Homo sapiens: one gene and its partners. The protein of the gene in region 6 interacts with the protein of the main gene of each other region in a pairwise test. Each region holds a gene or a part of one and is shown on either strand. Other genes may lie near its edges.

The links.
Region 1: the proteins of TMEM128 (region 6) and TMPRSS2 interact in binary tests that used the Homo sapiens proteins (3 or more experiments, as listed by UniProt).
Region 2: the proteins of TMEM128 (region 6) and SLC7A14 interact in binary tests that used the Homo sapiens proteins (3 or more experiments, as listed by UniProt).
Region 3: the proteins of TMEM128 (region 6) and TMEM106A interact in binary tests that used the Homo sapiens proteins (3 or more experiments, as listed by UniProt).
Region 4: the proteins of TMEM128 (region 6) and ARL13B interact in binary tests that used the Homo sapiens proteins (3 or more experiments, as listed by UniProt).
Region 5: the proteins of TMEM128 (region 6) and HSD17B11 interact in binary tests that used the Homo sapiens proteins (3 or more experiments, as listed by UniProt).
Region 7: the proteins of TMEM128 (region 6) and GORAB interact in binary tests that used the Homo sapiens proteins (3 or more experiments, as listed by UniProt).

Annotation. Positions count from the first base shown.
Region 1 is NC_000021.9:41,463,441-41,467,500, reverse strand, and holds the end of TMPRSS2 (transmembrane protease serine 2), read left to right. Parts: intron 1-1,347; coding exon 1,348-1,359; coding exon of another isoform or gene 1,360-1,381; 3' UTR 1,382-3,196; downstream 3,197-4,060. UniProt on the Homo sapiens protein: Plasma membrane-anchored serine protease that cleaves at arginine residues. Participates in proteolytic cascades of relevance for the normal physiologic function of the prostate.
Region 2 is NC_000003.12:170,578,837-170,583,219, reverse strand, and holds part of SLC7A14 (solute carrier family 7 member 14), read left to right. Parts: intron 1-4,383. UniProt on the Homo sapiens protein: Imports 4-aminobutanoate (GABA) into lysosomes. May act as a GABA sensor that regulates mTORC2-dependent INS signaling and gluconeogenesis. The transport mechanism and substrate selectivity remain to be elucidated.
Region 3 is NC_000017.11:43,214,362-43,218,077, forward strand, and holds part of TMEM106A (transmembrane protein 106A), read left to right. Parts: intron 1-1,426; coding exon 1,427-1,580; intron 1,581-2,087; coding exon 2,088-2,228; intron 2,229-2,335; coding exon 2,336-2,379; intron 2,380-2,897; coding exon 2,898-2,951; intron 2,952-3,319; coding exon 3,320-3,440; 3' UTR 3,441-3,716. UniProt on the Homo sapiens protein: Activates macrophages and polarizes them into M1-like macrophages through the activation of the MAPK and NF-kappaB signaling pathway.
Region 4 is NC_000003.12:93,982,521-93,986,903, forward strand, and holds part of ARL13B (ADP-ribosylation factor-like protein 13B), read left to right. Parts: intron 1-4,383. UniProt on the Homo sapiens protein: Cilium-specific protein required to control the microtubule-based, ciliary axoneme structure. May act by maintaining the association between IFT subcomplexes A and B. Binds GTP but is not able to hydrolyze fit; the GTPase activity remains unclear.
Region 5 is NC_000004.12:87,376,992-87,381,374, forward strand, and holds part of HSD17B11 (estradiol 17-beta-dehydrogenase 11 precursor), read right to left. Parts: intron 1-4,383. UniProt on the Homo sapiens protein: Can convert androstan-3-alpha,17-beta-diol (3-alpha-diol) to androsterone in vitro, suggesting that it may participate in androgen metabolism during steroidogenesis.
Region 6 is NC_000004.12:4,237,765-4,242,147, forward strand, and holds part of TMEM128 (transmembrane protein 128), read right to left. Parts: intron 2,716-4,383; coding exon 2,557-2,715; intron 172-2,556; coding exon 72-171; 3' UTR 63-71; intron 1-62.
Region 7 is NC_000001.11:170,551,157-170,554,624, forward strand, and holds the end of GORAB (RAB6-interacting golgin), read left to right. Parts: intron 1-858; coding exon 859-1,306; 3' UTR 1,307-2,678; downstream 2,679-3,468.

The DNA of each region.
Region 1 (4,060 bases), on a different chromosome or scaffold from region 6:
CTCAGCTTGTGTGAAATTCCTTGGTGCTCTGCCAACCACACTTCGTTCTGGCTCAGCTGACTCAGCTGTTCCACCCAGGCCACCTCACATCAAACTTTTTTTTTTTTTTTTTGAGATGGAGTCTCACTGTGTCGCCCAGGCTGGAGTGCAGTGGCACAATCTCGACTCACTGCAACCTTTGCCTCCTGGGTTCAAGTGATTCTCCTGCCTCAGCCTCCCAAGTAGCTGGGACTACAGGCATGCGCCACCACGCCCAGCTACTTTTTGTATTTTTAGTAGAGATGGGGTTTCTCCATGTTGGCCAGGCTGGTCTCGAAGCCCTGACCTCAGGTGATTCACCCACCTCAGCCTCCCACAGTGCTGGGATTACAAGTGTGAACCACGGTGCCCGGCCTCACATGAAACTTTTGATTTATAGAGAGCAGAGGGAAGAGCCGGCTGTGCCCATCCTTTTCTGGGGCCATCGAGTGGCTCCTGGGCAGCCCCCAAGGTTAGGAAGGGCAGGAGCAGCCAGGGTTCTCTGATGCCCCAGACTCAAGCACGAGGGAAGGTCTCAGGGGTTCCATGTGAGCCTCATGGATGTCTCTGCTTAGCAGAGCCCTGGCTTTGGGCATTGTCCAGATAGGGGGTGAGAACCAGATCTTCTCATCTCCAGGACCTCAGACGTATAGTTTTCTCAGATTTCTGTGCTTTCTGGGGCTGGGCTACTAGTGGAAGAAAGCAGTCTATTCTGTCTTCTCCCAAATCTCCCAGATGCCCAGTCTGTTGAAGGAGGAGCAGAACCAGGGGGCCTTTCCCGCTGAGGCCCGACCTGTGTCTCCTTCAAATGACACGCGGGACTCAGGGCCTTCCCATGACCATGGGGCCCAGGGGGCGTCACCTGGCCCAGGGCCCAGTGCTAGAAACAGATGACCCCAGGAGGAGGAGGCAGGGCAGGAGGGAAGCTGGCAGGGCTGGGATGGTCAGCCAGGCTGAGGGGCGGACTCGCACCAGGATGGAGCTAGGAAATGATCCAGGTGTGTTTGGCGGCTGCAGGTGGGTCCGCATGGCTGTGCAGGGAGGGAAGGGCTGCGTGGCAGGAGAGCAGCCGGGGGAGGCCCAGACTCTGCTGAAGAGATGCCTGTTGTGCCGGCCTCCACATCCGCTGCCCGCTCCTTCCGGAGCTCCTGCCCCGCCATGCTCAGCCTGACTCTGACCAACACGTTGGAGAGAAGAATGATCCCTTTGTGCTATTAAGCTTGCTTATTTGGTTTCTAAGTGCTTCATGCGAACCTAGAGGAAAAAATTATTTTCCACCTTTGTTTGTCTTAAGAAAATAACACACTTTTTTTTTTCCTATTTGAACAGGCAGACGGCTAATCCACATGGTCTTCGTCCTTGACGTCGTTTTACAAGAAAACAATGGGGCTGGTTTTGCTTCCCCGTGCATGATTTACTCTTAGAGATGATTCAGAGGTCACTTCATTTTTATTAAACAGTGAACTTGTCTGGCTTTGGCACTCTCTGCCATTCTGTGCAGGCTGCAGTGGCTCCCCTGCCCAGCCTGCTCTCCCTAACCCCTTGTCCGCAAGGGGTGATGGCCGGCTGGTTGTGGGCACTGGCGGTCAAGTGTGGAGGAGAGGGGTGGAGGCTGCCCCATTGAGATCTTCCTGCTGAGTCCTTTCCAGGGGCCAATTTTGGATGAGCATGGAGCTGTCACCTCTCAGCTGCTGGATGACTTGAGATGAAAAAGGAGAGACATGGAAAGGGAGACAGCCAGGTGGCACCTGCAGCGGCTGCCCTCTGGGGCCACTTGGTAGTGTCCCCAGCCTACCTCTCCACAAGGGGATTTTGCTGATGGGTTCTTAGAGCCTTAGCAGCCCTGGATGGTGGCCAGAAATAAAGGGACCAGCCCTTCATGGGTGGTGACGTGGTAGTCACTTGTAAGGGGAACAGAAACATTTTTGTTCTTATGGGGTGAGAATATAGACAGTGCCCTTGGTGCGAGGGAAGCAATTGAAAAGGAACTTGCCCTGAGCACTCCTGGTGCAGGTCTCCACCTGCACATTGGGTGGGGCTCCTGGGAGGGAGACTCAGCCTTCCTCCTCATCCTCCCTGACCCTGCTCCTAGCACCCTGGAGAGTGCACATGCCCCTTGGTCCTGGCAGGGCGCCAAGTCTGGCACCATGTTGGCCTCTTCAGGCCTGCTAGTCACTGGAAATTGAGGTCCATGGGGGAAATCAAGGATGCTCAGTTTAAGGTACACTGTTTCCATGTTATGTTTCTACACATTGCTACCTCAGTGCTCCTGGAAACTTAGCTTTTGATGTCTCCAAGTAGTCCACCTTCATTTAACTCTTTGAAACTGTATCATCTTTGCCAAGTAAGAGTGGTGGCCTATTTCAGCTGCTTTGACAAAATGACTGGCTCCTGACTTAACGTTCTATAAATGAATGTGCTGAAGCAAAGTGCCCATGGTGGCGGCGAAGAAGAGAAAGATGTGTTTTGTTTTGGACTCTCTGTGGTCCCTTCCAATGCTGTGGGTTTCCAACCAGGGGAAGGGTCCCTTTTGCATTGCCAAGTGCCATAACCATGAGCACTACTCTACCATGGTTCTGCCTCCTGGCCAAGCAGGCTGGTTTGCAAGAATGAAATGAATGATTCTACAGCTAGGACTTAACCTTGAAATGGAAAGTCATGCAATCCCATTTGCAGGATCTGTCTGTGCACATGCCTCTGTAGAGAGCAGCATTCCCAGGGACCTTGGAAACAGTTGGCACTGTAAGGTGCTTGCTCCCCAAGACACATCCTAAAAGGTGTTGTAATGGTGAAAACGTCTTCCTTCTTTATTGCCCCTTCTTATTTATGTGAACAACTGTTTGTCTTTTTTTGTATCTTTTTTAAACTGTAAAGTTCAATTGTGAAAATGAATATCATGCAAATAAATTATGCAATTTTTTTTTCAAAGTAACTACTGCATCTTTGAAGTTCTGCCTGGTGAGTAGGACCAGCCTCCATTTCCTTATAAGGGGGTGATGTTGAGGCTGCTGGTCAGAGGACCAAAGGTGAGGCAAGGCCAGACTTGGTGCTCCTGTGGTTGGTGCCCTCAGTTCCTGCAGCCTGTCCTGTTGGAGAGGTCCCTCAAATGACTCCTTCTTATTATTCTATTAGTCTGTTTCCATGCTCCTAATAAAGACATACCCAAGACTGCAATTTACAAAAGAAAGAAGTTTATTGGATTTACAATTCCACATGGCTGGGGAGGCCTCACAATCATGGCAGAAAGCAAGGAAGAGCAAATCACATCTTACATGGATGGCAGCAGGCAGGGAGAGAGTTTGTGCACAGAAACTCCCATTTTTTAAACCATCAGATCTTGTGAGACCCATTCACTATCACAAAAACAGCACAGGAAAGACCCACCCCCATGATTCAATTATCTCCTATCAGGTCCCTCCCACAACACATGGGAATTATGGGAGCTACAAGATGAGATTTGGGTGGGGACACAGAGCCAAACCATATCATTCTGCCCCTGCACCCCCCAAATCTCGTATCTTTACATTTCAAAACCAATCAGGTCTTCCCAACAGTCCCCCAAAATCTTAACTCATTTCAGCATTAAGTCAAAAGTCTACAGTCCAAAGTCTCATCCAACACAAGGCAAGTTGCTTCCACCTATGAGCCTGTGAAATCAAGAGCAAGTTAATTACTTCCTAGATACAACGGGGGTACAGGCATTGGGTGAATACAGCCATTCCAAATGGGAGAAATTGGCCAAAATAAAGGGGCTGCAGGCCCCTTAAAAGTCCAAAATCCAGCAGGGCAGTCAAATCTTAAAGCACCAAAATGACCTCCTTTGACTCCATCTGTCATATCCAGGTCACACTGATGCAAGAGGTGGGTTCCCATGGTCTGGGGCAGCTCCACCTCTGTGACTTCGCAAGGTATAGCTTCCTTCCTGGCTGCATCATGGGCTGGTGTTGAGGGTCTGCAGCTTTTCCAGGCACATGGTGCAAGCTGTTGGTGGATCTACCATTCTGGGGTCTGGAGAATGGTGGCCCTCTTCTCACAGCTCCAC
Region 2 (4,383 bases), on a different chromosome or scaffold from region 6:
CATTTCTTTACTTGCCCTATCTTGTCTATATCTCCTCTTCTATGACCTATTCCCCAAAAAATAATTTTCCCAAAATTGGTTACCCTAAGCAACTGCCCATGTTCTCATAGGGACTGGGAAAAGGCCCTAATAAGACCTAAGGATTTTTATAAATAAAGATCATTATAAGTGCTAATATCTATGAAATGCTTATCATATGTGAGGCACTATGTGAAGTTATTTCATCAATCATTTTACTGAATTATCACAATTCTGTCAAGTAGGTGGCTCCACTAAAGATGGTCCTAGGATTCTAGTTCGCTCTAACATACAGCAGAACCTGATGTTCTGTTCATTTCCTCTTTCTTCTCTTTCCAGCTCATAGTAAAGTCTCATCTTCATCAATTGGATTTTTGTATTTAATTGATAGTTCCATCCTGCTCCAAAACATAGCATTTAGAAATTCAAATTCAGTTCAAATGACACTGTTTTGCTCTCTCATCTCTTAATATTTACCAAACATATTCTCCCCATTTGTTATCTCTTATTTAAAAATTCCCATATGGCTTCTTATTGATAATGTCAACATTCTGCTTCAAACCTTCTCTAGAGCCAATTAAGGTATAATTTGTAATTAAATACATAACTTCTATTGTACCTTCACTAGGTGATCTGTCAAGAATGCTATTGCTGAGGTGCTCTGGGCCCTGTGAACCAGAACCTTAAACTGTCTAGAACTGCTCTGTCCAACATGGTAGTTGCTAGCCACATGTAACTATTTATAATTAAATTTTAATTAAACTTTTTAAAATTAAAAATTTAGCCCCCCAGTCACACTAGTCATATTTCAAGTGCTCAATAACTCTATATGGCTAATGACAACTGTGTTGGACAGGGCAGATATCAGAAAATTTTTATCATTTAAGAAAGTTGTGTTGAAAAATGCTGCTTTAGACAGTACTAAACACACCCTCACAGCAACCAAGAACTAGGAACTGGGAAGAAGTAAGGACCTACTCTTCTTTGAATCTTCTGCCAAGAAAGAAAGAAAAAGCCACTTATGCCTAATACATCACCAGTAGCCCAAAGATACCTAGGACAATTAGGCTATGAAGGAGTGTGCATGTCTTACTTAAGGAGCTGGTAGCCTCTGGAGTTTGCTTCATATGAATTCTATGTTACTATAAAGTAAAATATTCCATGAATGAGGTTTGCTGGTTTCATGAATTTTGACTTAGATACAATCTGAAAGTTCCAATTCAAAATCCAAGTTTATAGATTACATGTATATGTAATAACATGTGTGTGTGTTTATCTTGTCTTAGTAATCATAGTATGATAGACATGGAAAGAATATAAGACTTGGAGTCAGTAGTACAGGTGTCACATACTACTTGGTGACATTATGAGGCCCTCTAGAGCTCCATTTCTCCATCTCTAAGATGTTGATGAGAATTGCCATAACTATCTCAAAGGACTATTGTAAAACTCAAAGTGTAGGTATACGAAAGTACTTTGTAAGGAGCATGATTGAATCTGCAATGGTTTATTATTTTATATAGATATGGTACAATGTACAAATAGGGTAGTTCAGGCTGAATGCATTTCTGAATGATTTTAATCTGATATGACTGTATTTTTGCCTTTGTGGTCATTTATTTCACTGAAAAGTGGAACGGTGAAGAAAAAATTTAGTTATTGAAATTTCTGATTGGTTAGATTCTATTAATTGAAATACCGTGCATTGTTTGTTGTTTAGTTTATTTGGTCCTGAACATTTTCTTCTCAGGATTAAAAAAAATAATAACTAGGAAATCTAAGTTGTTTGGAACAGCTTTTACCTTTTAACTAATAGTTTTTAAGTAATCATCAATAATGAACCCATCATGGTAATAGGGGTTCAGAAATAACAAAATACAAGCATTATGGATATTCCTCAGTGTGAGGGGGTGAGAGGGATAATTTTCAAAACATATTTTTACTAATTACAAATTGAAATGAGCTTCTATCCATTCTCATAGATCAATCAGAACAAGAATAATTCTATTTCATGCATTGATTAAACCAAAACAAAAGTGAAGGTCATTAACTTGACTGAATTATTGAGTTTGCATTAGGGATTCTAACCTTAAATAACAAGTCTTTATTCATTCTCTAAGTTGAAATCTGTTGGGGTCATTAGGAGAACCTTATGCATCTGGCTAACATTTACTCCCAAACCTGGCATCTATGACCTACTCCCGCACTTTGATCTGTGTATGCTATTTATGCGTCAAGTAAAACTGCTTTTCAGATGCAGCCATACCTTCTATAGTGGCTCACGATTTTGATACTTAAATATTTTTCTCTTATAACACAAAGATTAACACAGTGCTCAGATATTGTAGAAAATAAGCCTGGAAACAAAGCTATTCCATCAGATGTTTCTTCACTGTATTTATTAGGTTTTATCATCTTGAAAACTCAACGAAGTCACTTTATTTATTCATTCATTCATTAACAAAGCACCTGAGAATCAAGCTGAGTATGACCAAGGGCATGAGGTTTTATCTCCAGTTCCAGAGATCTAGTTTACCTTTGTTTAGAGTTAACAAAGGTATAGATGCTACCTTGTAAGATGCTCTGCCAGGTAAATAGTTGAGATATACACTTAGCCACTGTTTCTGGTCAAGCCTGCTGTCCTCAAGCCTTTGTTGCATATGGGACTATATTACTGAAGGAAAAATAAGCGAAGCTGTTAACTCTGGCCTCTAGTAGATGATGCTAGCTTTAACAATAAACATATGTTGTTGGGCGTCATGATTTATTCACTTCATTGGACTTGTTTACCTCTTGGAAAGACCTGGATTTTGGAAAGGGGAAAATGCCATTACCTTGGAGCTGAAAAGAGTTCTTCTCTGTCTGTAGCTTAAAGGATTTCTCTAATTGTAGATCCCAAGAGATAAAGAGAACTGACAATGTAGCTTTGAAACAAATCCTAATAGCATACAATCATCCATTTAATCAATAACATAGTTGAAGAATGTCCTATTTTGACACAAAAATGTTGTGGTTAAGGATGTTTGGAACACATGGATGATCAATAAATATTTGGTGAATTCAGACCATTGTTCCAGGTTAATTCATGCCATACACTCGTCTATCTCTACCAAGAATTCAGTATTCCCTATGGCATTTTCCTTTAGCAAATAAAACAGGAGGCAAACACAGTATATCAAATCTTACCCTAATAACCACACTTCTAGCCCTTCTCGGGGCATAAATAGTGATGGCCAAGATAGACTACTCCTGAGAACCGTGTCTTGCTGCTTCACCCAGAAAACAAAGCACAAATCAGCCCAAGGGCCTTGCATTTCACTGTGATGAGGCAACTTCAGAAACTCAAAGCTTAAATGGAGTTGTGTGTTCTTTTCCACTCTTATCTTGAAGAGATACCTGTCATTTCCTTCAGAAAGTATTTGGCTGGCCTTCATGATAGCAGCAGGCAATTGCTATTGTTCCTAAATTCAGAAGAAGCTTAGCTTAGAATGAAAGCACATATATTAATTAGAGGAGAACTAGCGACATTGCAGTCTGATGGTTTACAGAATATTATCCTTTTCCAGGAATAATAAGGCTTCCCTTTAACGGTTTTAACTGGTGATTACTGACAAAAATGAAAGAAAAACAGCTCATTCTATTCTAGCAAGTCAATAAGGAAACGCCTAGAATTAACTGATTCTTATTTGCCAAAGGCAAAATATTCCAACCCAATGAACAACAAATGATCAAGCTGGTTCTCATTTTCTCTTCATTTTAAAAAAATTTTTCCATGTTTTTGAAAAATAATCAGTAAATAAGAAACAATTGCACCCAGGTGTTTAAACATTCTGTTGACAAAATGGTCTTCAGAAATGGAAAGGCTTAATTGTTTGTTAGAGATTATACAACATATTATTATGTCAATATTTTATAACAATCACATAACTGAACTCTCTCACTTTAGAGAGAAATTGATGCTGGGAACACTCACCTGAGTTGATGTCAGAGGAATATGACTTGAGTCTTCTCTCTCTCAGGCAATTATAGAACCCACTCTGCATTTTTTAACATCATGCATCATTTCATTAGTCATGAAAACTTGTTTAGTCTATGAGTTTATCAAAGATTCAGGTTTATCTTTTCTCAAAGATTCAGGGAGTAGGAAAGAGTATGTGTTTGGATTTCAGATTATTTCCCTTTGTACCTCCAGGTGAAAGAACTACTGGTCAAGGATGGTCAGCAGGTAGAAATTTCAGGGGTGGAACTATAAGCCATAGAAAAAGATTCAAAACCTCAGCATCATCCATGTTGCAAGAACTTAGGCAAGGATTTAACTCTTCTTACTTTTTAATCTTCATCCCTAAAAGAAGTTATTTAGATTAA
Region 3 (3,716 bases), on a different chromosome or scaffold from region 6:
GTCCTCCCAGGAAGGAGGGAACAAGCATGTGGCCCTGGCTGCAATTGATTTGAAAATGTTATTTTTCTTAAGCACCTCCCTTGCTGAGGCAGTTCAGATTTGCTTGTTTTTCTTCTAGTAGAGATGAAAAACCTATTGTCCGCTGTTCTGGGATACTTCAGAACCTCAGGCAGACCTGGGGCCTACTGTGTTTGTGATCTGAGTCCATCTGACATGGAGCTCCCTCAACCTCCTCCCAAGGTCCTGGTGTCAACCTGGGAGTCACCACCAAGCCGAACCCTCTCCGCCACCCCACTATACCAGAATTAGAAATCAGGCTGGGCGTGGTGGTTTATGCCTGTAATCCCAGCACTTTGGGGAGGCCAAGACAGGCGGATCACCTGAGGTTAGGAGTTCAAGACCAGCCTGGCCAACATGGCGAAACCCTGTCTCTACTAAAAATAGAAAAATTATCTGGGCGTGGTGGCAGACACCAGTAATCCTAGCTACTTGGGAGGCTGAGGCAGGAGAATTGTTTGAACCCAGGAGGTGGAGGCTTCAGTGAGCCAAGATCATGCCACTGCACTCCAGCCTGAGCAACAGAGCGAGGCCTCATCTGAAAAAAAAAAAAAAACAAAAAAAAACCCTGTAATCCCAGCACTTTGGGAGGCCAAGGCGGGCAGATCACGAGGTCAGGAGTTTGAGACCAGCCTGACCAACATGGCAAAACCGCCTCTACTAAAAATACAAAAATTAGCCGGGCATAGTGGCAGGCACCTGTAATCCCAGCTACTCAGGAGGCTGAGGCAGGAGAATGGCGTGAACCCGGGAGGTGGAGGTTGCAGTGAGCCGAGATCGTGCCACTGCACTCCAGCTTGGGCGACACAGCAAGACTCCATCTCAAAAAAAAGAAAAAAAAAAGAAATTAGCAGTGCACATCATAAGATACTAACAAAGTACTATCTCTTTAATGCATATCTGAATTTTGAATTGGATGGATGGTGTCCTGTTCTGAATGTTAAAATTCAGAACTTCCAAATATGGACTTATTTCTTCTAGTGATAATAACTAGCATTCATTGTGCTTTTGCCATGTGCAGGGACCTGTGATTAGTATTTTTTCATATATTAGCCGATAACAAATTCTGTGAGGTCAGTACAATTATCTGCCTTTTACCAACAAGGAAACTGAGACTTAAGGAGGCTAAGTGGGCTGCTCCATGTTATTGGGTCAATGGGAACAGAGATCTGGGAGTGGAAACCAGGCTGCCTGCCTGCCAATCCTGTGCTCCTACTCATTCCGGGCCACATCTGGGGAGCTAAATGTTGTTGGGGTAGTGTGCAGGGGAAAGCTTTGTATATGGAGAGGAGTGTCTGAACCCCCTCTCCGAGTTTCCTTGGTGTTCAGACTTTTCCATTCCTCCATCCTGGGTCCTGCTTTCCCACAGGAAGCTCTTTGTGTTCCTGGCCGTGCTCATCTGCCTGGTGACCTCCTCCTTCATCGTCTTTTTCCTGTTTCCCCGGTCCGTCATTGTGCAGCCTGCAGGCCTCAACTCCTCCACAGTGGCCTTTGATGAGGCTGATATCTACCTCAACATAACGGTGGGTGGGTGCCCTTGGCTCCAAACCCCCCTTCCTAGCAATACTTCGCTGTAACCTTTGTCCAGTGTTATGACCCTGGGCATGGGAAGCCAGAGATCTTATGGCACCCAGAGGGTGTTGGGAGCCTGAAGAGAAGTAGGAGCAACCATGAGCTCCATGACAGATGGTAAGGATTGGGACTCTACACAGTAAGGGGTCAGAATCCGGGCCAGATAAGTAAACCACAGGGGTGGAGTGGGGTGACAGTGCCTGAGACTCTCTGGATGGACAGGACTGAATGGAAAGAAGCTGTACAGGATGGACCTGGATCCTGAGGCAGCTTAACTTCGTAAAGTTGACCCCTCACCATTCAATGCCCCTCCAAGGGGCTCCCAGTTTTCATCCTCTGCACCTGAAGCTTGTCATGGTAGATGGGGCTCAGGCCAGACAGCCAGGCTTTTGCAACTGTTTGGCTTTTCCTAAGGATGGGCCATCTTCACTCCTCCCTTCCCTTGTCTTCATCCCCAGAATATCTTAAACATCTCCAATGGCAACTACTACCCCATTATGGTGACACAGCTGACCCTCGAGGTTCTGCACCTGTCCCTCGTGGTGGGGCAGGTTTCCAACAACCTTCTCCTACACATTGGCCCTTTGGCCAGTGAACAGGTGACTCCCCTCTCCCTGGCCAGCCCTGCCCACTGGTGTGTGGATGTGTGGTAGTGGGAAAGGGGCAGCTGGAGTTGGGGCTAACCCTGTGCCCATTTGGTTGACAGATGTTTTACGCAGTAGCTACCAAGATACGGGATGAAAACACATAGTGAGTACCCCTTGATCTCTTCTCCCCTAGCCACTTGCCTGGCTTAGGGACCCAATTAATACCCACCAGCTTTCCTGATTGCTTAGCAAATTCTTCAGCCAGCATCTGGCCTGCCCTCCCATGGCCGAGAATGTAATAAGCAAGGGTTCAGGGTCCCCAGCCTCTGCTTGTTTGGACCTTGATTAGAATGAAAAACAGGCTGGAATTTGGTTAATCTTTACAATATGTGACCTTGGGCTCTTCAGCCTGCATTGCTGAGGAAGAAGAATGTTTTGTCTGTCTCCTGAATGGGGGTCCAGCATGTGCCTGGGCCAAGTGAGTGGAGGTCAGAGTGATAGTGCAGCCATGCTGCTACACTCACCTGAAGGGTGGGAAGGGGTGGGAGTGACATTTTGGGGGCACCTGATGGAAGGAAAGAGTTCTGTGGGGTAAGGAAACTGGGACCTGCAGGCATCTTCTGAGCTGACAGGCTGCTCCATGTGACACGTGGTCCCACGTTCTCTTTTCTTCTCTCTCAGCAAAATCTGTACCTGGCTGGAAATCAAAGTCCACCATGTGCTTTTGCACATCCAGTAAGTAGAGCTTGGAGCTCTGGTATCCCTGCTCTCACTTCTGACTTCATTCTCACTCAGCTACACCTCATGGGCAGAGAGTCTTCCAAGCTGACCCCATGAATCTTTGTTGGCTCTTGGGAATAGCAAGTCTAGCCCCTTTTCTGAGTCTCACCTTGCCTATAAGTTATTAGGGGCAACAGGCATAGGGCTGTCTGGAAGCTGCTGGAAAACAGGTGGGGCAGCTGTCCCAGGTACCTTGGCAGAGTGGGGAGCCAGAGGGAAGGGCAAATGAGGGAGCTCCCCGCTCCCCACCCCCAGACAGTATAATGGGGCCAGAGCTTTCCTTTTCCTCCCAGCCATGGCAACAAGGCCTGCTTCCTCTCCAGGGGCACCCTGACCTGTTCATACCTGAGCCATTCAGAGCAGCTGGTCTTTCAGAGCTATGAATATGTGGACTGCCGAGGAAACGCATCTGTGCCCCACCAGCTGACCCCTCACCCACCATGACCTGTCTGCTGTCCCTGTACTCCAGGCACCTGCAACCCTGGTCTATATCTCCCACAACTCCCTGGTGACTAAGGAAGGACTACAGAGGCTTTGCCAAAGGAGAAGCCCTGCCTCATCACACCCTTACCTCCCACCCCCTCAGCACAGGAAGCTTGCTTTGAAGTTAACTTCATACACACACACTCATATCCTCCAGTTTCCCCCAGATTCTTTCAGGGGCTGCCATCAGATTCTGCCCTTGGTTAGTTTTTTGTTTTTTTTTTGGTAGAGACAGAG
Region 4 (4,383 bases), on a different chromosome or scaffold from region 6:
GATAACTTTTGCATATGCTAGGTTAAATAATATATTAGAATTAACTTTTTTTTACTTTTTAAAAAATGAGATTACTAGAGAATTTCAATGTATATGTTGCTTATGTTAACATTTCTGTTGGATCTTACTGCTCTGGATCATAGCCTAATATAAAGGACATAGGTAAACATCTCAATTTGGATAACTGTCAAAGAATTTGAACACAAGTTGGATTACCCCTGTCTTCTAAGTCCCCTTGTTCAATGCCTGATTTATAATAGTGGCTGAATAAATATTTGCCAAATATTGTATGTAGTTCGATTTTTCTTAGTAATAATCATCCTGAAGTAAATAACATTAGCAAGTAGTTCCATTTATTTTACTGGAATAAATGAGAGGTGAGCAAGCTAATTTTAAAAACAAAATTTTGTGCTTTTATGGTGTTCTCTATTTTTTCAACAGAAATTGCCTGTTTGATTATTATGTATATATTTGTTTTCTGTAGAATTTCTTATTAAGATTCCTCTTCATGTTTATATTTTATGAAGATGAAATGTGAGGAGTGAATTTGTAAAAGAGATGATGATGGTTATTAATATACTATATTTGAGATTACTTTGCAGATTTGTTTAATACATTCTGTACCCCAGTACCCATTGTATTTGTTCACCTCTCCTCACTTAGATCCTTTCCTAGTGAGCATATTATTCCAGACATTGGAATCAGGGATTAGATTTGTGTGATAAGGACAAGGCAGGAGTCAGAGATCAAGTGTTAAGGCACCAGTCTAGGTCAGCAGTCAAGATCTTATAAAAGTTTAACGCTTCATCCCCCTTAGTGGAGTACTGAACCCCACTTATTTGGGGTTTGGTATGGCCCCATTCATGAATTTTGGTTCAGTTTGGTACGGCTCCATTCATGAATCAATGAATGTGGAAATAAACTCTTGAAATTTTATTGTTCCTAAGTTTATCTTTTAAAAATATGTTACCAAATTGCTCCTCAGAAAGGATTAAAAAAGAGAAAACACAGTTTCTACTCCTACCAACAGTACGTTGGAGTGCCTTTTTCACTGAGAAAATCAAGAGTCATCGGTTTTTCATCTCCTTCACATTATAGGGGAACCTGCTTTCTGCTTTGAGTTTCTGGGGTTTTTTTTGTTTTGTTTTGTTTTTATTACTAGGAAGATTAACTTTTTTTCCTTGCGCATTTTTGTTTCTCTCAGCAGTTGTCCATTGATTACTGTTGTGTTTTTTCTATTGGGGCAGGTGTGTTTTCTTAATGAATTTTTAAAAAGAAATTTTAAGTGTTTGTCGTAGCTACTGTTTCTCTGTAGTACAATTGACACTTGAACAACGCAGGGTTTAGGAGCACTGAACCCTGCCTTGCCAGCACAGACAGAAATCCACATATAACTTTTGACTTCCAAAAAACTTAATTACTAATAGCCTCCTGTTGACTAGAAGCCTTACTGATAACATGAATAGTCAGTTACCACATATTTTTTATGTTATATGTATAATTTATTGTATTCTTAAAGTTAGAGGAAAGGAAATGTTAAGAAAGTCATAAGGGGCGGAGCACGGTGGCTCACGCCTGTAGTCCCAGCACTTTGGGAGGCTGAGGTGGGCAGATCACTTGAGGTCAAAAGTTCAAGACCAGCCTGGCCAACATGGCGAAACCCTGTCTCTACTAAAAATACAGAAATTAGCTGGGTGTGGTGGTGGGCACCTGCAATACCAGCTACTTGGGAGGCTGAGGCAGGAGAATCACTTGAACCTGGGAGACAGAGGTTGCAGTGAGCTGAGATCATGCCACTGCACTCCAGCCTGGGCGACAGAGCAAGACTCTTGTCTAAAAAAAAAAAAATTAAAAAGAAGAAAAAAATACATTGACTATTTATTAAGTGGAAGTGGATCATCATAAAAGTCTCCATCCTCATCTTCTTCCCATTGAGTAGGCTGAGGAGAAAGAGGAAGAGGGGTTGGTCTTACTGTCTCAGGAAGGTTTCAGAGGCAGAAGAGGTGGAAATGGAGGCTGGGGAGGCAGAGGAGGCAGGAGAGGAAGGCACACGTGTAACTTTCATTAAAAACAAATTTGTGTGTAAGTAGAACTGTGCAGTTCAAACGTGTGTTGTTCAAGGATCAGTTGTATAATATTGCAAGTATTTTCTTTCCATTTGTTATATTTTCAACTTTTTGTGCTTTTTAAATATAAACATTTAAAATGTTTGAATTCAGGCTGGGTGTGGTGGCTCACACCTGTAATCCTAGCACTTGGGAAGATCGCTTGAGCCTAGGAGTTTGAGATCAGCCTGGGCAATATAGTGAGACCCCATCCGTACAAAAATGTTTTAAAAAATTAGCCAGAAGTAGTGGCATGTGCCTGTAGTCCGAGCTACTTGGGGGGCTGAGGCAGGAGGATCGCTTGAGCCCAAGAGGTGGAGGCTGCAGTAAGCCCAGGTTGCCCCACTGCAGCCTAGCCTGGGTGACAAAGTGAAACCCTGTCTCAATCAATCAATCAATCAATCAATCAATAAGACTAAATAAAAATTTTAAATTCAAATATATTACTGTTTCAGTGTAATGTTTAGAAAGTTCATCAGCATTACAAGATTACATTCACATATACTTTTTTCTTGTAGTTTTATATTTTCATTTTTAACATTAAAAACTGTTAATCTATTGCAATCTATTTAGCTTATAGGGAGCAGCCTTCATCCTGAGTACAGGACACAAGGTCTGTGAAGCTATGATGCTCAGTAAATCTCTGGGCCTTATAGCAGATTCTAACCCTTACACATTCTCATCTACAGATTTTGAGCTCCTGTTATTTATAACATAGCATCTAGGTGATGAAATAGTGCATGTAAAATATAATGATCGAATATGCAAGAGTTGAAATATGATTTTTAAGATTTTTAATGAGAATCAGGAAAGAGGATTTTAGAAGGGGTGTAATTTTACCTGGGTCTTGAAGAAATTCATGCAACAAATTTTGCATACAAATTTTGGCAACAAAATTCTTTGTTTATATGAAAATATACATGTTATATAACTTCTTATATATTATGCATACATAACTAACAAAAATGTTTTTACTGTTATTTAACCAAAAAGAAAGATATAATAAGTACCATATGCCTGCCAGGTTTTATAAATATTAATCTTTAGTCATCATATTTCAATTTTATTTTAATAAGTAGGTAACAAATCCTTGAAACTTCCTGCCCCCTATTCATCTCCCACCATTCTTCCACAGAGTTAACCTTTAATTGGAACTGATTTCTTGTCCATCTGTGTTTTTTCAGCATCACAAATACAACCTATCAAAGCTTTACTTCAAATTTATTAGTAAATTGTTTGCTGTGGCCAAGTCTAAAATAAGATACAGTACACAATGTTTCTAGTGGTCTGTTTTGTCCTCTTTGCTATGAACTTTTTCACTGAGGGAATACTTAGCTCCCTAATACCATCATTCTTGGCCTAAATAAATATAACTGTAAATCTAGACCATTTATAGAAATTGCTGAGTTCTTAATTTTCCAATTAAGCTGTATGTACAGATTAGCAAGGATTATCTATTGTGCTGTATGCTGAACTGGAATATTTTACATCTCTTTTTATCCCCCTAGTTCTTCTTGATTATGCATAGTAAGAATTTTAGAATTTTAATATAGAAAAGGACCTAGAGACATTCTTATTTTACCCCCTTATATTTTAGAGATGAAAAAATGGACACTAAGAATTTGACTTGATCAGGGCTTAAAAGCAGGCTATAAACCCAAGCTTGGCCTTCTCACTATTTATTCATACTCAGTAAATTTAGATAATGATTTTGCTGTAATATGGGGTTCTAGATCTGAATTGAAATGTCAGAAAATAGTGTACTGCAATAAAATCACACTGTTTTTTCGATACATTTTTTTCTTTCTATCAATTTGTCGTATAGTGATTTTTTAAAATTCTCACATATGTATCATAAAACCTTGTTCTAAAGTCTTTTTTTGTATATGTATTTGTTACTTTTAGAATTTATGTTTATGTTAAAATTTAGAATTTGCTTCATGTAGTTTTAAATACTGTAGATAATAGAGTTCCGATGTGTCAAACTTTGATTTTAGTGTTTTTAGCGAAATGTTTTCTTTGACTTGCATAATATTTTTGAAGTTAGAAACAGCTTTTATGGGCCAGGCATGATGGCTCGCACCTGTAATCCCTGCACTTTGGGTGGCCGTGGTGGATGGATCAGTTGAGGTCAGGAGTTCGAGATGAGCCTGGCCAACATAGTGAAACCCTGTCTCTACTAAAAATACAAAAAATTAGCCAGGCATGGTGGCAGACTCCTGTAATCCCAGCTACTTGGGAGGCTGAGGCAGGAGAATTGCTTGCACCCAGGAGGCAG
Region 5 (4,383 bases), about 83 Mb from region 6:
TGGTGGTGGGTTCCTGTAGTCCCAGCTACTCGGAAGGTTGAACTGGGAGGATTGCTTGCACCTGGGAGGTGGAGGTTGCAGTGAGCTGAGATTGCACCATTGCACGCCCGCCTGGGTGACAGAGCAAGACTCTGTCTCAAAAAGAAAGAAAAATATTTTTAAAAAAAGACTATTTGTAGGCCGGGCACAGTGGCTCACACCTGTAATCCCAGCACTTTGGGAGGCTGAGGCAGGTGGATCATGAGGTCAGGAGTTCAAGACCAGCCTGACCAACATGGTGAAACCCAGTCTCTACTAAAAGTACAAAAATTAGCTAGGCGTGGTGACGTGCACCTGTAATCCCAGCTGCTCAGGAGGCTGAGGCAGGAGAATCGCCTGAACCCGGGAGGCGGAGGTTGCAGTGAGCTGAGATTGCGCCACTGTGCTCTAGCCTGAGCGACAGAGCGAGACTCTGTCTCAAAAAAAAAAAAGACTATACTCAAAAGGGGACCATTACAGGTAATGTAACTTTTTTTCAAAATAATTGTTATATCTTCTGGACTAGAATATAATCAATAACTATCTCTTCAACTAAGAAAGATCATAGAATCTTGATGCTTAAGCCCTACTTTTTATAAGATTGGAGTACCATAATTCCAAGGGGTAGCAATGCAAAAATACCTTATATGAGATTTTTATGGTTCCATAAGCAACTAAGATGCTTGGGCGGATAGACCCTAGCGTCCTAATGCATTTTGTTATACACTGTGTTTCAAATGAAACCTAGCTCTATTAACAGAGTTATCATTATTTAGAGATAGTGCTACAGTGTGTTGGGGGACTGAGGGAAAAGTGGCAAATAGCCTATGAGGGGCTTTTACTTTGTTATGCATTTACATGATTTCATTATTTTTCTTATTGAATTCTCACAGTAACTCAATGAGACAGCAATTCTTATATGCTCACTTTAAAGATGAAAACATGAAACAGAATGGTTGAGTTTCATACCCAAGGTCACATGGCTATTAAAAGATGGAGCTGGGACTCTCCCAGATCTGTCTGACGTCAGAGCCCAAGACAAGCCACCCCAAACAGAAAGGAGGCCATGGGCAAAAGTCTACCAGTACTCCTGTAGGGCATCAATCTGCCATGCTGAAGGCTCTTCAGTCAGAATTGAATTTCATCAGATTATATTTACGTTAGTAAAGTGTCAAGCTAAGTTTTTTGACCCTGATCAACACCATTTATACCTATATACTATTTTATATTACCAAAGGATTTTCCCAGACACTCTTGACCCTTTCTTCATCATTGCCTATTACCTCCCCAGGATATGAATGTCTGTTTTGTATTTTTTTGTATTAATTTTGTTTTTAAATTTTTGTGGGTACATAGTAGTGTATATATTCAAGGTTACATGAGACATTTTGATACAGGCATGCAGTGCATAATTATCACATCAGGGTAAATCAGGTATCCATCCCCTCAAGCATTTACCCTTTGTGTTACAAACAATCCAATTATACTTTTAGTTATTTTAAAATGTACAATTAAATTACTATTATTAATCATTTTTACTAACAAAAAATTCTTTATGGCTGCTCCTTGCAGAGCAGGGCTAACTCACAGGCAGTGCAACCAGAGTAGCCTATTTGTTCTAATTTTTGGTACCCATTAACCATCCCTACTTCTTCCCTACACCACCTCTACCCTTCCCAGCCTCTGGTAACCATCCTTCTACTCTCTATCTCCAAGAGTTCGATTATTTTAATTTTTAGCTCTCTCAAATAAGAGAGAATATGTTTTGCGTGTATATATATATGATTTTATATATATATATAAATATAAAATATATATATAAATATATATATATAAATATATATATAAATATATATAAATATATATATATAAATATATATATATAAATATATATAAATATATATATATAAATATATATAAATATATATATATATATATTTATATATATATATTTTTTTTTTTTTTTGAGATGGTGTCTTGCTCTGTTGTCCAGGCTGGGGTGCAGTGGCATGATCTCAGCTCACTACAACCTCCGCCTCCCAGGTTCAAGTGATTCTCTCACCTCAACCTCCCAAGTAGCTGGGATTACAGGCACCTGCCATCATGCCCAGCTAATTTTTGCATTTTTATAGAGACAGGGTTTCATCATATTGGCCAGGCTGGTCTTGAACTCCTGACTTCAGGTGACCATGTTGCCCAGGCTGATCTCGAACTCCTGAGCTCAGGGGATCCACCCACCTCGGCCTCCCAAAGTGCTGGGATTCTAGGCATAAGCCACGCTCCAGCAGATATATTTCTATAAAGCATTATTTGCCTCTTCTAGATACAATTGAGATGTGCTGTATATAATGGGGTTTCACTCTGAACGCATTCTTGCTTGTACCTAACTAACTACCTTAATGTCAACAAGGTCATCAGAATTACTTGGGCAGATTCCTGGATATATATATAATATTTATATTGTTATATTTATATTATATAATATATATTATATATACATATATAATATGTACATATATACATATACAGCATTATATACATATACATCTACATATACATCTCATATATACATACACAGCATTATATACAGCACAACTCATATATACATATATGTATTATATTACACATATTATATGTATATGTATGTATATTATATATTAATAGTATAATATAGTATTAGTATACTATACTATTATATTAGTATATAATAATAGTATATACTATTATTAGTATACTATAGTATAATATAGTATAACAGTATAATATAGTAATAGTATATTATAGTATAATATACTATAGTATTATAGTATTAATAGTATATGTATTATACTATTATATATGTATATGTATATGTATTATACTATTAATTATTATTATACAGCACATCTCATATATACATATTATATTATATATTTATATATACTATATAAGTATATAATATTTATCAGCCTGTATATATATATTACAGGTATCTGCCTGTAATCCCAGCTACTCGAGAGGCTGAGGCAGGAAGATTGCTTGAACCCAGGAGGCGGAGGTTGCAGTGAGCCAAGATCACGCCACTACACTCCAGCCTGGGTAACAGAGCAAGACTCTGTCTCAAAAAAAAAAAACGTTCTGATACTAAAATGATACTAAAATGGCCACCTCAAAACAGCTACTTCAAAATATCTGATTCTCAGCTTGCTTTCATTATTAAGAAATATACAAATCCCAGCACTTTGGGAGGCCAAGGCAGGCGGATCGCGAGGTCAGGAGATCGAGACCATCCTGGCTAACATGGTGAAAGCCCGTCTCTACTAAAAATACAAAAATTAGCCATGCGTGGTGGCGGGCATCTGTAATCCCAGCTACTCGAGAGGCTGAGGCAGGAGAACTGCTTGAACCCAGGAGGCGGAGGTTGCAGTAAGCCAAGATCACACCACTACACTGCAGCCTGGGCAACAGAGCAAGACTGTCTCAAAAAAAAAAAAAAAAAAGAAAAAAGAAAAGAAAAGAGAAAAAGAAAAAAAGTTCTGATACTAAAATGGCCACCTCAAAATAGCTACTTCAAAATATCTGATAATGGGCTAGGCGCGGTGGCTCACGCCTGTAATCCCAGCACTTTTGGAGGCCGAGGGAGCAGATCACGAGGTCAGGAGATACAGACCATCCTGGCTAACACGGTGAAATCCCGTCTCTACTAAAAATACAAAAAAATTAGCCAAGCGTGGTGACGGGCGCCTGTAATCCCAGCTACTCCGGAGGCTGAGGCAGGAGAATGGGGTGAACCCGGGAGGCGGAGCTTGCAGTGAGCCGAGATCGCACCACTGCACTCCAGCCTGGGCGACAAAGCTAGAGCTAGACTCTATCTCAAAAAAAAAAAAAAAAAAAAAAAAAAAAGAACTCAGGCCAGGTGTGGTGGCTCACGCGTGTAATCCCAGCACTTTGGGAGGCCAAGGAGGGTGGATCACTTGAGGTCAGGAGTTCCAGACCAGACCACCCTGGCCAACATAGTGAAACCCCATCTCTACAAAAACACAAAAATTAGCCCGGCATGATGGTGCGTGCCTGTAATCACAGCTACTAGGGAGGCTGAGGCAGGAGAATCGCTTGTGAACCCGGGAGGTGGAGCTTGCAGTGAGCTGAGATCACGCCACTGCACTCCAGCCTGGGCGACAGAGTGAGACTCCATTTCAAAAAAAAAAAAAAAAAAAAAGAACTCAAACCAAAAATTCCATAAACAAAGAGGTTCTCAAGTCTTGCTGAATCACACTTTTTATACTGCACTGAATTAGAATATCCAGGGGTAAGGTCCAGGAATGTGTATTTTAAGGAATCTGCCCAGGTAATTCTGATGACCTTGCTGCCATTAAGGTATTTAGT
Region 6 (4,383 bases):
TTGTCATAAAAGACATTTTTCAAACGAGTTCATTTTTAGAAAAACCACTCCAGATATCTTACCTTCGGAAATCATCCAAGGAGTGTGATAAACATGACAACCCCCATAAACTGGGTAAACAACAACAATGGAGTGAAAAACGACCACACATGCCATAAAGCAATGTTGAAGCTGAAAAGAACAAGACATAAACAGTTGACAACTCCAATATGCATCAATATATTTTATTCTAGAATCCAGATTTAAAGTATTCAATGTAGAAAAGTTCATCCAGTCAGCAACTTTCTCTATGTATCATATTTCTCAAGTATGTGACTTAGCCAATGCTGGAAAGGAAAACTCTAGATATACTTAAACAAGTATCACAATTTCTTCAAGAAGGCCCTGGAACTGGAACCACTAAAGGTCTCCTAATAGGGGTTGACATGGCTTAATAGAAACTGAAGTCTCTTAGTTTCTGACTTCAACAATAATTTAAATGGCTACAGCCCATTTTTATGACATCACACACTAAACTATCATGGTAAAAAAGACCAAAATATTGTCTCTTAAAAACAGAATGAAAACAGTTATCACTTATAAGCTGCTATTATATCTTTCATTGAGAAAAACACTATTCCTGTCATCAAAGTAAAATTAAAACACTAAGTATAAAGATTTTTAATGACTGAAATTTCTAAGAACAGAATAGGGAAAACTATATTCAAATAAGTTCAGATGGTTATTGGTTTTAATATATAATAGTTTGATAAGTATGAGTATTAAATAACTATAATCACAAATCACACTGTCTAAAAAATTAACATTTCTGGACATGATCTTACCCTCATGGGAAAAAGTAAAACAACGTATCTGCATGCCCCCACATACAGGTTAACAATAACCACATCACACTGTCAAACAACCTTGAACTTCAACTACAGAAAATAAGTCATAGAAAGAATATGTATAAAGGTATATGGTTCTTCCAAAATAAAAATTCAATTAGGCCGGGGGTGGTGGCGCACGCCTGTAATCCAGCACTTTGGGAGGCCAACACAAGCAGATGGCTTGAGGCCAGGAGTTTGAGACCTGCCTGAGCAGCACAGCGAAACCCCATCTCTACAAAAAATACAAAAAATAGCCAGATGTGGTGACACATGCCTGTGGTCCCAACTACTCGGGAGGCTGAGTGAGGCAGGAGGATCACTTAAGCCTGGGAAGTCGAGGCTGCAGTGAGCTGTGATCATGCCACTGCACTCCGGCCTGGGTGACACAGTGAGACCCTATCTCCAAAAAGAAAAAAAAATCCAATTGATATAAAGAAAGAAAAAACTAGAGAGCTGCACACAACATAGGAAAAGTAGTTTTCTTTCTGGTTGAATCATAGGATATATTTCCTTTGTGTTTTCATGTAATTTACAGATTTTTTTTCCTCAGTGAGCAAGTATTACTTTTATAAACCCAAAAAACCCTGTATTTTTCATTGAGTATTTAATTAACTTATGAAGAAGGTTATTCATTGTGGCATTGTTTGGGTATAAATATAACGAAGTCCAACAACAGAAGACAGGTTAAATAAATCATGTTATGTCCATGCTGTGAAAACTATGCAACTGTTTAAAAAAATGAGACACATCTATATGTACCATTATGGAAGAATCCCAAACTATAAGGATCCACTGAAAAACAAAAGGAGAAAAGGACAAACAACCACTTTGGAAAGCAGTTTGGCATGATTTACTGAAGTCAAAGGTACGTACATCCAACAATTTTACCCCTTGGGGTACATATATATACATATATACATACATCTCTACACCCAACAGAAATGTGTTCACTGTGCTACAAGAGCCATGTACAAGAATGCTCTTTATAGCATCCTTCATAGTAACCCCAAACTGAAAAAAATCTAAACACAATCAACAAGGGAAAAGAAAACTGGGATTCAATTAAACAATGGAATGCTAAAGAGCAATGAAGATGAGTCACTGTTCCCGGCGACAATATGAAAGAACTGCACACAATGCTGCACACAGCCAGCTCAATGTGAAGGAATACACCCTGTACAAATCCATTTCTATAAAGTTCAAAAGCGTAGCTGAAACAAAAATAGAATATCTAATGGAAGCAAAGCAAGTAGTTACCATGAAGGTCAGGGCAGTATTTACCTGTGGCAGGAGGGAAGGTGTAGTAACTGGGAGGGAGAATGAAGGGGGTTCCCAGTGTGCTGGCTCAGTTTACACCAATGCTCACTTCATGAGAATTCATTCACTAATTCATTCATCTCAGTTTTTTTCACTTTTCTATATGTACTGTATGTCATAATAAAATAGATTTAAAAAGCAAAATGCAGAATATGTACAGAATGTCACCATCTGTGCTTTAAATAACTAGATCCATAAATAGAAGGAGAAAGAGATACTAATCAAAAGGGAACCAGAGAGCATGAATGACCAGGAGACTATTTTTCTGTTTTAACTTTTTTTCTTTCGAAGTTTGGACCAAGCATATCACTATCTGATCAAAAAAAAAATTTGTTGTTCATTCCTGTTAGTCATTTCAAAGTTAACTTACCAAATTCCTGCTGCAATAAAGGAGGCAGTGGTAATGGGTATCAAGGCTGGATACTTGACATCATATTCTCCAATTCCACAATACCATTCCAGGTAGACTATGCAGTAAAATGCAATTGATAAACTGACAAGCAACAAGGCACTGCCACAGAGAAACCAGCTGTGGAGATAAAAACAGTAAGAGGTCTGACAGCACTTAATGAATCGTCACATATCTTAAAAGTTTTTACTAATAGCTTAAAAATCTGCTTCTAAGAATATCAAGTGTTGCAGAGGGAGCCATACTTAAACAATCCATGCTTTCAGAAAGTCTCAATCTATGGGAGATGGGGGTGAGAAAAAGAGATACACAACTCAGGAAAGAATGAAAAGTAAGACTTGAAATACATGCATTTATATATACACTCTCATCAGCCAACCAACCAAGGGAAAATTCTGGTCATGACAATGCATTTTCTTTAAAAATACAAGGAAGAGGCCGGGCGCAGTGGCTCATGCCTATAATCCCAACACTTTGGAAGGCCGAGGCAGGTGGATCACCTGAGGTCAGGAGTTCGAGACCAGCCTGACCAACACGGAGAAATCCTGTCTCTACTAAAAATACAAAATTAGCCAGGCGTGGTGGCGCAAGCCTGTAATCCAATCTTCTTGGGAGGATGAGGCAGGAGAATCGCCTGAACCCAGGAGGCAGAGATTGCAATGAGCTGAGATGGCGCCATTGCACTCCAGCCTGGAGTGCCTGGGCAACAAGAGTGAAACTCTGTCTCAAAAAATAAAATAAATAAAAACAAAAATACAAGGAAGATAGTGGCTTTCTGGTTGTTTCTGAAGTTTTGAGTGTGACAGGATTAAAGAAGTTTATCAGTGGGAAACTTCATTCCTCCAAGTTAAGTGGACTTTCTTGGAATACTGAAAGACAATTAGGAAGATCAATAATTCAAATTTTCTCTCATAAAAGATTTCTAAATGAAATCCTCCCATTTTCAAAATATCTTCTACTCACCACCTCACCCTCAATGCCAATGCCTTTTTACTCCCTTCCAATTCCACCTGTGACCTGATTCAGCAAGAGTGAGGCAACCTGGACAACCCCTTCCCTCCACCCCAGCTGGACTTGGGGACTGAAATGCCTTTCCCATTCTCCCAACTCAATCCAATATCCCATCATCATCTGCTTCTCTATGGGAAAAGCCTGACAATCCATGTGGAAGAGAGAGGGAGAACAGATGGCTACAACAGATAAGTTACAAAGGCACAAAGTGAACTTCCAATAATGGCAAGGTTCCGGATTCCATGAAGGCTTTTTACGATGATGCAATTCTGAGATTCGGAGTCATGAGAGGCTGTAGAGGGAAGGGGTTAAGAGCACAGCCTCTGAAATCTGTCTGTATGGGTTTGAATCTTAACTTGAGCAAGACTAGTTTTGTGACTCTAGGCAAATTACCTAACCTCCGTGTGTTTCAGAAATATTGACAGTACTTAACTCAGAATAGCTGTGAGAATTAAATCAAGTGGTCAGCAAAGTGCTCCTCACAGCTGACTCTCAATCATAATCATTATTATTCCACTCAAGTTATTTTTATTTTCATTCATTTATTTCTGAGCCGGAGTCTTGCTCTGTTGCCCAGGCTGGAGTGCAGTGCTGCAATCTCAGCTCACTGCAACCTCCGCCTCCCAGGTTCACCAATTCTCCTGCCTCAGCCTCCCAAGTAGCTGGAATTACAGGCACTGGCCACCACGCCCAGCTAATTTTTGTATTTTTAGTAGAGATGGGGTTTCACCATGTCCATATTGGCCAGGCTGGTCTCGAATTCCTGACCTCAAGTGA
Region 7 (3,468 bases), on a different chromosome or scaffold from region 6:
ACATTTGGCAATGCCTGGGGACATTTTTGGTTGTCATAAATTTTGGGAATTACTGGCAACTAATGGGTAGAAGCCAGTGATGCTGTTTAGCATCTTGCAGTGCAGGACAGCTTCTCACAACAAATAATTATATGGCCCAAATTGTCAGTAGCACCAAGGTTGAGAAATCCTGCATATAGCTATCCTGAGGTTTTCTACTTGATGTTTACTTCTTGCCCTCACCCAGTATCATTTTGCTGGGTGTGCTCTGTTCCATTTATATTCATCTCCCGACCACTGTCCGTATCTTTCTCCATCAGAATTTTTCTTTTTTTCTAATTTATTAATCAAGAGAACAATTTTCCACTTTCTCCATCTCTTGTCTGTCTTCTCATAAATTTAACCAGCTGTGTGCTGAAGCTAGCTTACCCTGGTTCATGTGGATTTTGTGTATCTCTTCCCAGTTCTGCATTCAGTAATATCACGTTGGTGGCTTGAAATTGGACAGGGTGGTAGTAATTATCCCATGGAAATGTAAACGCTACAAATCAGGGCTCCCCATCCTCCCACCCCAGAACTAGCATACCACTGAATTAACCTTTTAGCCTGCCTTCACTCAAAAACAGCTTTGTAAAGAAAACATTCGTGCAGAATAACATGTTTTCATTAGGTGAATTCAAGTAAGGATACTGTGAAAGTTTCAGCAGCCATAGCCTAGTCTGGCCAACATGTAGACAAGTGTTTGTAAAGTAGTAATATCCGTATCTTCATTATATATTTTTTCCCAATTTTGGAGTTGAGTTATTGTTTCTAGATCCTCTTTTGAATATCTTCTTCAATGGAAAACTGATGGACCTATCTTTATACACATCCTTACAGGAAGCGGTTTGACAGGGCTGAAGCAGAGTACATTGCAGCAAAGCTAGATATACAGCGCAAGACTGAGATAAAAGAGCAACTCACTGAACACCTTTGTACGATCATACAGCAAAATGAGCTCCGAAAGGCCAAGAAGTTGGAGGAGTTGATGCAACAACTAGATGTAGAAGCCGATGAAGAGACTTTGGAGCTTGAGGTGGAGGTCGAGAGATTGCTACACGAACAAGAAGTAGAATCAAGGAGACCAGTGGTTCGTTTAGAGAGGCCATTTCAGCCTGCGGAGGAGAGTGTGACATTAGAATTTGCTAAAGAGAACAGAAAGTGTCAAGAACAAGCTGTTTCCCCAAAGGTAGATGACCAGTGTGGAAATTCCAGTAGCATCCCCTTTCTTAGTCCAAACTGCCCAAATCAAGAAGGTAATGACATTTCAGCTGCTTTGGCCACATGAAGTTCTGGTATTCTTTTGAGCTAATATGGTATTGAGTAAAGTATACTTTTTGCAGTAGATCATGCCCTGACCTCCAATAAAAACCTCTTTAAAACAATGCTGATTTTTGAATTCATGATTAGTTTTAGTAAATTAATAGGTTTGGCCATTCTAAAATCCAAAATTATGATAACTGTATTTCTAGGGGTATGTTTCACCTTGATTTTGGCCCGGTTCTTTCAGTGTTCCGTTTACCCTTTTTACTGAAAGTAAGTGACTTAAAAGGATGGAAGAAAAACTACATGGTTGGAGTGTTTTTAGATCAGATAAATATAGAAAAGTAAAATGGAAAATGATACTCAATACCTAGTTAAACTCATTTCACTTCTCCTGGGAGACGTATTAAGACTGGAAGTCCTATTTTATTTAATCAGTATCAGTAAAAAGACAAAAATTACAGTGTGAACAAGAGAAAAACAGGAATAGAAGAAAAAAGTTGCAGGTTGAATTATCTATCTGGATATTACTAGAGTTGTAAAACACAACTTGGAAACTGGAATTTATGTGAAGAACCAAACAACTTAAACCAGCATCACTTTTGTCTTCAATTTGCCTTCCAGTGATTTTAGTTTACAACCTGCGTTTTGTTATTTGAAACACACACACTTATATATAAACACATGTAATTTTACTATTTTATTGTCTTTCCTTTAATCGATGAATTGATTAAATTTAGACAATTAAAACATTTCTAAAGTGAGACTGAAAATAATATAGAAAATCTCATTGCTACTTGTGATTATCAAAAAAAGTATGTATTTTCTTTCTAAAGTTATCTATAAATATGTTTTTGATATGTTGGACATGAATTACCCTGTCATGAAGCGTTTAAATTGTTAAAATGCTGATTTTCTTATTAGTTTGTTAATTGCCTGTTACTAGTACTTGACCAATACATTGTGCTATATGTAAATGTGTAAATAAATATTGTAATTTTCTCACAAAGTCTGTGAATATCACATTATGATTTATTTATCAGAAATTCCAAAAAGTAAAAATATTACCTTTGAGGACTTTTTTTTTTTAAAAAAAGAATTATTATCAGAGAACATAAGCACAAGTATAAGATTGTATCCATAAAAGTTTCTGAAAAACTTAGGGACATCCTGTTTTTAAATGGGTTTGTTTGAGGGTATTATCTTCTGGTAATATAGATGAGCTTTATATTTTTATATTATGTAATTTGAGTTGAAAGTATAACATTTTACTACTGACTTCTCTAAACAGAAGCATTTCTATAGATAGTTGTGCTTTTATTTATGAAATACATAAAAGCCAACAGTTTCATTGTCTAACACACTTCTTTTTCTAAGGAATAAACAAGTCTGATGTACTTATAGTGTCTTTCATTTACCTTAAAAAAATTTCAAACAGTTTAGTATGTATTAAGCATTGTGTGACAATAATGCATCTTGGATCTCCTTGTGGTACATACAGTTACTTACTTTTATTAAGCCTCTGTTAAGGAAAATTCATTATCAGTGAGGTTTTATAATATTGGTTAAATGCAGGCATGTGCAATCTTAATTCTCAGTGTAAACCCTTCAAAGATATATGAAGAAATGAGAACCGTGAAAAAAATATAAGTTAGATGAGACCTCAGAGATAATCTAATTTAATCTTTTATTTTTTTGAGATGGAGTCTCACTCTGCCACCCAGGTTGGAGTGCAGTGGCACGATCTCGGCTCACCGCAACTTCCACCTCCCAGGTTCAAGCAATTCTTCTGCCTCAGCCTCCCAAGTAACTGGGATTACAGGTGCCTGCCACCACACCTGGCTAATTTTTCTATTTTTAGTAGAGACGAGGCTTCACCATGTTGGCGAGGCTGGTCTCAAACTCCTGACCTCAGGTGATCCTCCTCAGCATCCCAAAATGCTGGGATTACAGGCGTGAGCCCCCTCGCCCAGCCTCGTTTTATTTTATAGTGAAGAATTTGAGAGCCAAAGATTTCAGTAGCAGCTTGGCCAGCTGGCTCATTTGAAATTTAAAGTGCTAGTAAAGTTGCAGTTCCATATTCCAGGTGTGTCACTTACATATTTCAGGCTGTGAAGTTCACTGCACTGCATCCCTCCACTTGCAAATTTTGCTCTATAACCCGTTGAGGAAGAGTGTGTGTGTGTG